Regions from separate parts of the Homo sapiens genome. Here region 1 is linked to region 2. The links come from fine-mapping of genetic effects on gene expression. A gene starts in region 2. The other region holds a variant in brackets. All regions are shown on one strand. Distances are from middle to middle.

The links. PIP is the estimated chance that this variant, and not a neighbour inherited with it, causes the effect.
Region 1: its variant is the best candidate, but not a certain one, in a credible set for the expression of RDH12 in prefrontal cortex (ROSMAP, PIP 0.70).

Annotation. Positions count from the first base shown.
Region 1 is chr14:67,720,741-67,725,137 of GRCh38, forward strand. It overlaps RDH12 (retinol dehydrogenase 12), which reads left to right. Exons shown (of 9, transcript NM_152443.3): 2 at 108-162; 3 at 1,684-1,970; 4 at 3,733-3,851; 5 at 4,359-4,397. The coding sequence starts at 1,903. It also overlaps a transcript of GPHN not described here. Among named protein-coding and RNA genes, the nearest start is that of RDH12, 21 kb to the left of the region's middle. The variant A/T (reference allele first, on the strand shown) is at 2,477.
Region 2 is chr14:67,699,696-67,704,092 of GRCh38, forward strand. It overlaps RDH12 (retinol dehydrogenase 12), which reads left to right and starts at 2,191. Exons shown (of 9, transcript NM_152443.3): 1 at 2,191-2,240. It also overlaps a transcript of GPHN not described here.

The sequences.
Region 1 (4,397 bases), 21 kb after region 2:
TGATGGTGGCCTTTGGATTATAATATTTAACATTTTATTTTAGCAAAGTGTTTGTGTATTTTCATAATTCTAGATGCCTTATGGTCCTTCTAATATCTTCTCTCCAGAGGACTGTATGCTGTTCTTAAGGACTCTCTGCTTCCTGGACAAGCTCAAGCTAAGGTGAGTACCATCTTCTTAAATGCAAGGATCTTAGATTTGAGTCAAGAAGTGTCTGCTGGGAATGATCTGATCACTCCTTGTTCTGTTGGTCAGGTCCATGGGTTTCCCCAGGGGCAGAAACTGTGTCTTCCTAGTATGTTGCACAATTCCTGGTGCAGAGAAACACTCAGTAAATGTGTGTTGAGGATGAACTGATGAATGAGGACATGAACACCTGCCTGCCACAGAAGTCTTTCATGCATGGGTGTTCCTGGAGGCTCCTCTGGCTTCACAGGAAGGGACAGAACTGGGAAATTATTCCTGGGGTCCTGTCCCAGCTCCTTGTCTATTCTTCTGTCCAAGAGAGGAACACAGAGCGAGGAAGGGCAATGAATCCCACTTACCCTTCTCCCATCTCACACACATCCAGAGGCACGATCCTAGCTCACTTCAACCTTGACCTCTGAGCTCAAGTGATCCTCCCTACTCAGCCTCCCGAGTAGCTAGGATTACAGGCACGCACCACCACACCCAGATAATTTTTTGTAGAGACAGGGTCTCACTAAGTTGCCTAAGCTCAGTCTTGAACTTCTGGCCTCAAGGGATCCCCCTACCTTGGGCTCTTTACCAGCATTTTCTTGTATTTCTCCTCATCTTCAATAGCATTCAACTGAAACATCACCCACGTTCATCATCTCTCCCTTTTCTACACCATGGCCTTGAGTAAAGCAAGTGAGATAGCAAGGGAGATACGAATCAGAACAGCTAACCATAACAGCTGACTCTTATATACTGTTTAGCATATGCCAGTTTCGTTTTCCACCAATGTAATAATTGAACACTTAGAACAAGTGGGGATATATATATATATATATATATATATGTATAACACATATATATATAAAACCATATATTATATATATAATCATACCCATTGTACAAGTGAGAAAACTGAGTTAACAGAGAGGTTTAGTAACTTGCCCAGGGCCGTGGAGCTTTTAAATAGATTCAGCGCTAGAGTCCATGCACTTAAACACCATACCTTTCCTTGTAATATGCATGTGCGTGTGTTAACTTCATTGAAGTAAAATATAAAATGCAGAAAAGTGCACAAGTCGAAAGCATACGACTCAGCAGATTTTCATAAAGTGAGCACACCCATGTACTAGCACCCAGATGAAAGAGCAGAGCACTCTCAGCCCTCCAGGAGTTCCAGTCATCTCCCTCCCCAGTCACTGCCCCCTCCTCCCTAAGGTTAACTGCTCTTCTGACGTCTCTCTCCATTCTTCTGGGAGTTTCCTTCCCATCCTATTTTAATCCACTCATATTTTAAGCATCATGGGGTTTGTGGCTAAAGTTAGAAATATTCTATATATTCCATCTTGCAGTAGAGGTGGCAGTGGTTGGGAGAACACATTTCCTAGAGAAGAGAAACAATTGAGGATGGGGGGTTTAGGGGGTACTTGCTTTAGTTTCCCCACATTCTCTTTGCCAGTAAACCTAAGTAAGCTTCAAACCTTGACTCCATCCCCTCCCCACCAGGACTACATCTCCCAGCAGGCTGTGCTCTGACAGCTCTTGGATTTAAATAGGATTCTGGGCTCTGCTCAGAGTCAGGCTGCTGCTCAGCACCCAGGACGGAGAGGAGCAGAGAAGCAGCAGAAGCAGCCAAGAGCTGGAGCCAGACCAGGAACCTGAGCCAGAGCTGGGGTTGAAGCTGGAGCAGCAGCAAAAGCAACAGCAGCTACAGAAGTTGGAACGATGCTGGTCACCTTGGGACTGCTCACCTCCTTCTTCTCGTTCCTGTATATGGTAGCTCCATCCATCAGGTTTGTCTTAATTCAGCAACTCAAACAATCGTTTACAAAGACCTGCACTGGAAGCCGGTTCTCAGCTGCTGAAAGAAGAGAAAGGGAAGGAGGCTGACAGAGGAGAAAGTCAGGGCAGGAAAAGCAGGAAGGAAGGGGGTGTTGTGGATACCATGGTGGAAAACCAGAAGGAAGCATCTGCGGCCGGGCAGAGGTGGGGCTGAGTTCTGGCCCCACCTGAGCTCTGGGGAGAGTTCTACTGCCAGCGGAAGGCTGCATGGATGACTCTGTCAAGTAGCTCAACAAACACCTTAGGTGGGAGTCCTTGCGTTTTCATTTTATTCCTTTGGGTGTCTCTGAAGAACTCGGAGACTCTGTCCCTATTCAGGGTGGCCCTGCTGGCTTGTCATGCTGTTAAGTACCAGGTAGTTTGGGAAAGAAACAAACTCTTCTGCCTTTGAGACTACCCTCAATTAATGTTTTGGGATGGCTTTTTTGCTGTGGGATTTCTAGAGGTGTCAAATAAA[A/T]GTGTGTTCTGAGTGGAGAATTTTTAAATTTCTCTTTTTTAATTTTTGCTCTGTCACCCCAGGGTGGAGTGCATTGGTGTAGTCATAGGTCACTGCAGCCTTGAACTCTTGGGCTCAAGCAACCCTCCTGCCTCAGCCTCCCAAGTAGTTGGGAATATAGGCAGGTGCCACTACACCCAGCTACTTTTTAAATTTTTTGTGGAGATGGGGGTCTCACTATGTTGCCCAGGCTGGTCTCAAACTCCTGGGCTTAAGCGACCATCCCACGTTGGCCTCCCAAGATGTTGGGATTACAGGCATGAGCCACTGGGCTCAGCCTAAAAAATTTCTTATGATAAAGGAGGTTAAATGGACCTACCAAGGACAGTGTTATTCTAGGTTCTCCATAGAGATCTGGGTTCAAGTCCCACTTCTGCCACCACTATGTGACATGAACCTCCCTGAGCCTCAGTTTTCTCTACTGTAATGTGGAAATAATACTGGAGAAGTTGAGAGGATTAAAATAAATTACATATGGAAAGTGCCTAGACTAGTAATTGGCAGTCAGATGATGTGCAGGAAATGTTAGTTCTGCCCCTCCGTATTCTGTTTTAGGACCTGTGAAGTCAACTTCATGTAAAAGAGTGCTCTCTGCACAGAGGTCTGAACAAAGGAGGTTTTCTCTCTGTTTGCCATCGGCCAGAATGAAATCTCTAATACAATGGCTGAAAGCCTCGGAAATGACCCACTCCCTAAAACTGGAGAGGCAGCCTAAGATCAGTACCTGTGTATGCCATCCCCCAGAGTGCTAAGAGCAGTACCTGTGTGTGCCACCCCCCACAGAGTGCTGTTCATCAGTTACTCATGATGATGGTTACTGAATATTGACTCCGCTAATGTTTATCATGCATATGTTTTGAATGTAGGTTAGAGGGGAAAGCTTTCCTCTGGAACCTCTAGAGATAAGAGCTAGATGTATTTATTATCTAACAAGGAAAGTCTCCATTGGCCCTGACTCCAGCATTTACTCTGTTTGCTAATATGATTATTTGTGGCTTCTGGGCAAGTGATCTTCCCACCTGCACCGATAAACAGGCGACTACCTTGCCCCATGGAAAAATGTTGTCCTATGAAGGTTAGCTTTTATGAGTCTCCTGACTGCAACTTAAAGATACCCTTCTTTGAGGCTGGATAGAGTTTTTTTTTTTTTTTTTAACGTATCTTAGTGTGAGCTCGTGAAGGATGGTACGTGATGCTCTTGTTTCCCTTGCCGATAGGAAGTTCTTTGCTGGTGGAGTGTGTAGAACAAATGTGCAGCTTCCTGGCAAGGTAGTGGTGATCACTGGCGCCAACACGGGCATTGGCAAGGAGACGGCCAGAGAGCTCGCTAGCCGAGGTAAGTGTTTCCCCTTTAGTCTCCAAAGGGCCATGCCTCCCACCCTTCTTCCCACTGGGGCCTCTGTCCATATTGCTTTGTGTTTCCTCCTAGGCTTGGGGGCTCTGACTAGAAATTCAAGGAACCTGGGATTCAAGTCCAACTGTGACACCAACTTACACTGTGGCCTCCAATAAACTGCTTCTTTCCTATTCCCTCTCTATTAAATAAAATAAGGAAAACGATGTCTGTGTATAGCCAAGTCAGTTATTCTAAAAGGAGATACTAAGTGACATTAAATATCAGAATGTAAAACCTGGGAACCAGGTTCCCAGCCTGGGATTAAACTGACAGCAAGAAGACTGAACAGTACTACTGTGAAAAGCCCGAAGTGGCAATATGTTCACTCTACCGTTGAAGGATGGCTGGGAGAATGAATGCTCTGTCCCCCAGTCCCAAGCTCACTTACTATACCTCCTTTATAGCCTAGGATATGAACATACTGCTCTTTTTTTGTCTTGGACCCAGGAGCCCGAGTCTATATTGCCTGCAGAGATGTACTGAAGG
Region 2 (4,397 bases):
ACACAGTAAGTCACAGGAATTACCTTGATAAAACATTAAGAAAAATTTTAGGATAGTTACTAAAAAGTAAAGAAAAACCTTTTGTAATATGATTGTTTTTCTTTATTGGAACTCTATTTAGATAACCTGGAAGACAAACTCAATGAAAAGAATACTTGGATTTAGGCTGGGCGCGGTGGCTCACGCCTGTACTTCCAGCACTTTGGGAGGCCGAGGTGGGCGGATCATGAGGTCAAGACATCGAGACCATCCTGGCCAACATGGTGAAACCCCGTCTCTACTAAAAATACAAAAATCAGCTGGGCGTGGTGGTGCGCACCTGTAGTCCCAGCTCCTTGGGAGATGGAGGCAGGAGAATCGCTTGAACCTGGGAGGCGGAGGTTGCAGTGAGCTGAGATGATGCCACTGTACTGCAGCCTGGAGACAGAGCGAGAAAAAAAAAAAGGATACTTGGATTTAATTAAAATACAGGAAGAGTGTGTCCAGAGTTATGAGTGTACACTATATTTTTGAGGAAAGTAAACAAGGAAACTTGTATCTTAAGCAGGACAATAAATATGTCTCAGTAACAGCATCAAAAGTGCCCTGGTTATAGGAAATAATTTAGCTATATCGAGAAAAGCCAAGACTACAGAATCAAGTTATATTGGAGGAAAATGGTTTTGTTCCAGAGCTTTAAGATAAACATTTTAGCATCAGGCCACACCAGAGTTAGAACCAGAGAAAAAGATTACAGAAGGCCGGGCACAGTAGCTCACGCCTGTAATCCCAGCACTTTGGGAGGCCGAGGTGGGCAGATCACGAGGTCAGGAGATCGAGACCATCCTGGCTAACACGATGAAACCCCGTCTCTACTAAAAATACAAAAAATTAGCCGGGCGTGGTGGCGGGCGCCTGTAGTCCCAGCTACTCGGGAGGCTGAGGCAGGAGAATGGCGTGAACCTGGGAGGCGGAGCTTGCAGTGAGCCTAGATCGCGGCACTGCACTCCAGCCTGGGTGACACAGCAAGACTCCATCTCAAAAAAAAAAAAAAAAATTACAGAAGTTGGCTGGGCATGGTGACTCATGCCTGCAATCCCAGCACTTCGGGAGGCCGAGGCGGGTGGATCAGCTGAGGTCAGGAGTTTAAGACCAGGCTGGCTAGAATGATGAAACTCTGTCTCTACTAAAAATACAAAAATTAGCTGGGCACGGCGGCGAATGCCTCTAATCCCAGCTACTCGGAGGCTGAGGCAGGAGAATCACTTGAACCTGGGAGGCGGAGGTTGCAGTAAGCGGAGATCTTGCCACTGCACTCCAGCCTGGGTGACAAGAGCAAAATTTCATCTCAAAAAAAAAAAAAAAAAAAAAAGTCAAAGATTACAGAAGTTGACAAAAAGGTTGAAGGAGAGGATTATCATTTCAACCAAGAAAAACATGTATCTTTTTAAGGGTATAAAGAACGAACAACAACGATTCATGACTTGGGAATCATGTGCAGCGAGGTATAGCACAAGTAGAATTTTTTGAGATATAAATTTGAGAAGTTTTAGAAAAGAAATAGATTGTAGAATTTAAAATCAAAAGCTCTTGTAATTCACTAAGAGCAAATTTATACTTTAAGACAATGTTATTTTAACATAGAGGACCAAAATCTCAATCTTTAGAAACACTTATAACTTTTTTTTGATTATAGCCAACTTAATCACATATACATTTAAAAAAATTTTAAAGAACTTTATTATAATTTCTTTTTTTTTTTTTTTTTTTTTTGAGATGGAGTCTGTTGCCCAGGCTGGAGTACAGTGTCACTATCTTGGCTCACTGCAAACTCCGCATTCCAGGTTCAAGTGATTCTCCCGCCTCAGCCTCCCGAGTAGCTGGGACTACAGGCATGCGCCACCATACCTGGCTACTTTTTGTATTTTTAGTAGAGATGAGGTTTCACCATTTTGGCTGTGCTGGTCTCGAACTCCTGACCTTGTGATCCGCCCACTTCAGCCTCCCAAAGTGCTGGGATTACAGGCATGAGTCACCACGCCAGGCCTATTATGATTTCTGTAGACTATTTATGACATGTTTGAACTTTTGTTTTGCCCTACCCTTTCTCTTTTATAATTAACCTGTCATTTTGCTTTAGGAAAATAATTTACCATGTAATAAATTATTATCATGCAGTGGCATGATCAGCTCATCGTAACCTCAACTCCTGGGCACAAGCAATCCTCCCTTCTCAGCTTCCTGAGTGGCCAGGACTACAGGTAAGTGCCACCATGCCAGACTAATTTTCAAAATTTTTGTAGAGACAGTATCTCACTGTGTTGTAGAGACAGTGTCTCACTATGTTGCTTAGGCTTGTCTTGAACTCCTGATCTCAAATGATCCACCTGCCTTGGCCTCCTAAAGCATTAGGATAACAGTCATGAACCACTGTGCCCAGCTTTTTTAAAAATTTAATATATATATATTTTTTAAATGGAGATGAGATCTCATTATGTTGCCCAGGCTGGTCTCAAACTCCTGAGCTCAAGTGATTCTCCCACCTTAGGGTCCCAAAGTGCTAGGATTACACACATGAGCCACCATGCCTGGCCTGTGCTCAGTTTTTTAAGTTTTTTTCTATTAACCATTTTTATAGCCTGTGAATGTCAGATATTTACCTAAGCAAGAAATTTAAAGTTAAATACATGGGTATTTTGTTGATAACTCAGAAGGTTTAGCTGTATTTCTTAAACCAACAATATTAAATTAGTCTTACTTATAAAAAAAATCACACAAAGATTATTTTGGTTTTGGCTGGGTTCATAGTTTTTTACCTTTGTGCCAAATCCTGACCCTGTAAAATATTTAATAAGACAAGTATAAATCTGACCATAAATCTAGGCAAATATGTATGTTGACAATTTTGAAGACATTTTAATATTTATTTTACTAATAATTTTAAAGCCAGTTTATTTATTAAAGAATTACTTAAGTCATGTGAACTTGGAAAACCTTTGGGCTTACTAATTTATGAGTGCTCATTTATCTATAAGTCAATTGGGTATCATGTAGATACAACATATAACATATTACATGTATATATGTAAACACATCTAAACACACATATATATGCACAAATAGAGATCTTATACCTTTATTTTTTGATTTGTCTTTTGAAACAGGGCCTCACTCTGTTGCCCAGGGTAGAGAGCAGTGGTATGACCATGGCTCACTGCAGCCTGGACCTCCCAGGCTCAAGTGATTCTCCCACCTCAGCCTCCTGAGTACCTGGGACTACAGGTGCGTGCCGCCATGCCCAGCTAACTTAAAAAAGTTTTTTTTTTGTAGAGTCAGAGTCTCACTATGTTGCCAGGGCTGGTCTTGAGCTCCTGGGCGCAAATGATCCTCCTACCTTGGCCTCCCAAAGTGCTGGGACTGCTGGCATGAGTCACCTCATCTGGCCCTTATAGTTTTCATTTTAGAATTTTAGTCATGAGATAGTAATACAAACTCACCAGTTTATAAAAGATAGTTGGATCTAAATTATTTTTGGAAAAAATTGGGACCTGTTAGTTCACATGGCTAAATTTTATTTGTCCCAATAGGTAATCTAATGAAGGCTGTGAGCCAAAATTTTTGGGTAAGGTAGTTCGATGGCAGTTTTATTTTAAAAATCTTTTATCCTTTTATTCAGTTTCAAATGAGTTTAGAGTTAGGTTTTTAATGTTAACATTTTAGCTTGAACTGGCTGAATCGTATAAGAAAAACAAAATTTCTAAGTCTTCTTAAGTTAGTAATACTATAAACAGTGAGCTTTATCTCAACACAAGTAGAAAAGTCAGTAGTTTCAAAGTAGGCAGAAAAAATATATAGAGGTAGACAGAGAACTTAGACGATCCTACATGTTAACTCTGTAGTTCTGGGTGGACCACTTGAGTTCTAATCTGTCTATTATTTTAAGATGTGCACAACAATGGGCCATAATATGTATCTAGCTGGAGTCTCAGAAAACCCAGTATGTCTTTTTTTATTTTTCCGAGACAGAGTTTCACTCTGTTGCCCAGGCTGGAGTGCAGTGGCATGATCACAGCTCATTGCAACCTCTCTCTCCTGGTCTCAAGTGATCCCCCAACTTCAGCCTCCCTAATAGCTGGGACTACAGGTGCATACCACCGTGCCTGGCTAATTTTTGCATTTTTTGGGTAGAGATGGGGTTTTGCCATGTTGCCCAGGCTGGTCTCAAACTCCTAGACTCAAGTGTTCTTCCCACCTCAGCATCCCAAAGTGCTGGGATTACAGGCGTGAGCCACTGTGCTTGGCCTGGCATGTCTTAATGTTTGAGAATCTCATTTTTAAAATATTAATCTCTCAGTTTAGAAAAACTGTTGGATTCGTATTTTTATGATCTCAGTAGTTCTATTTTCATTCTGCAGTTG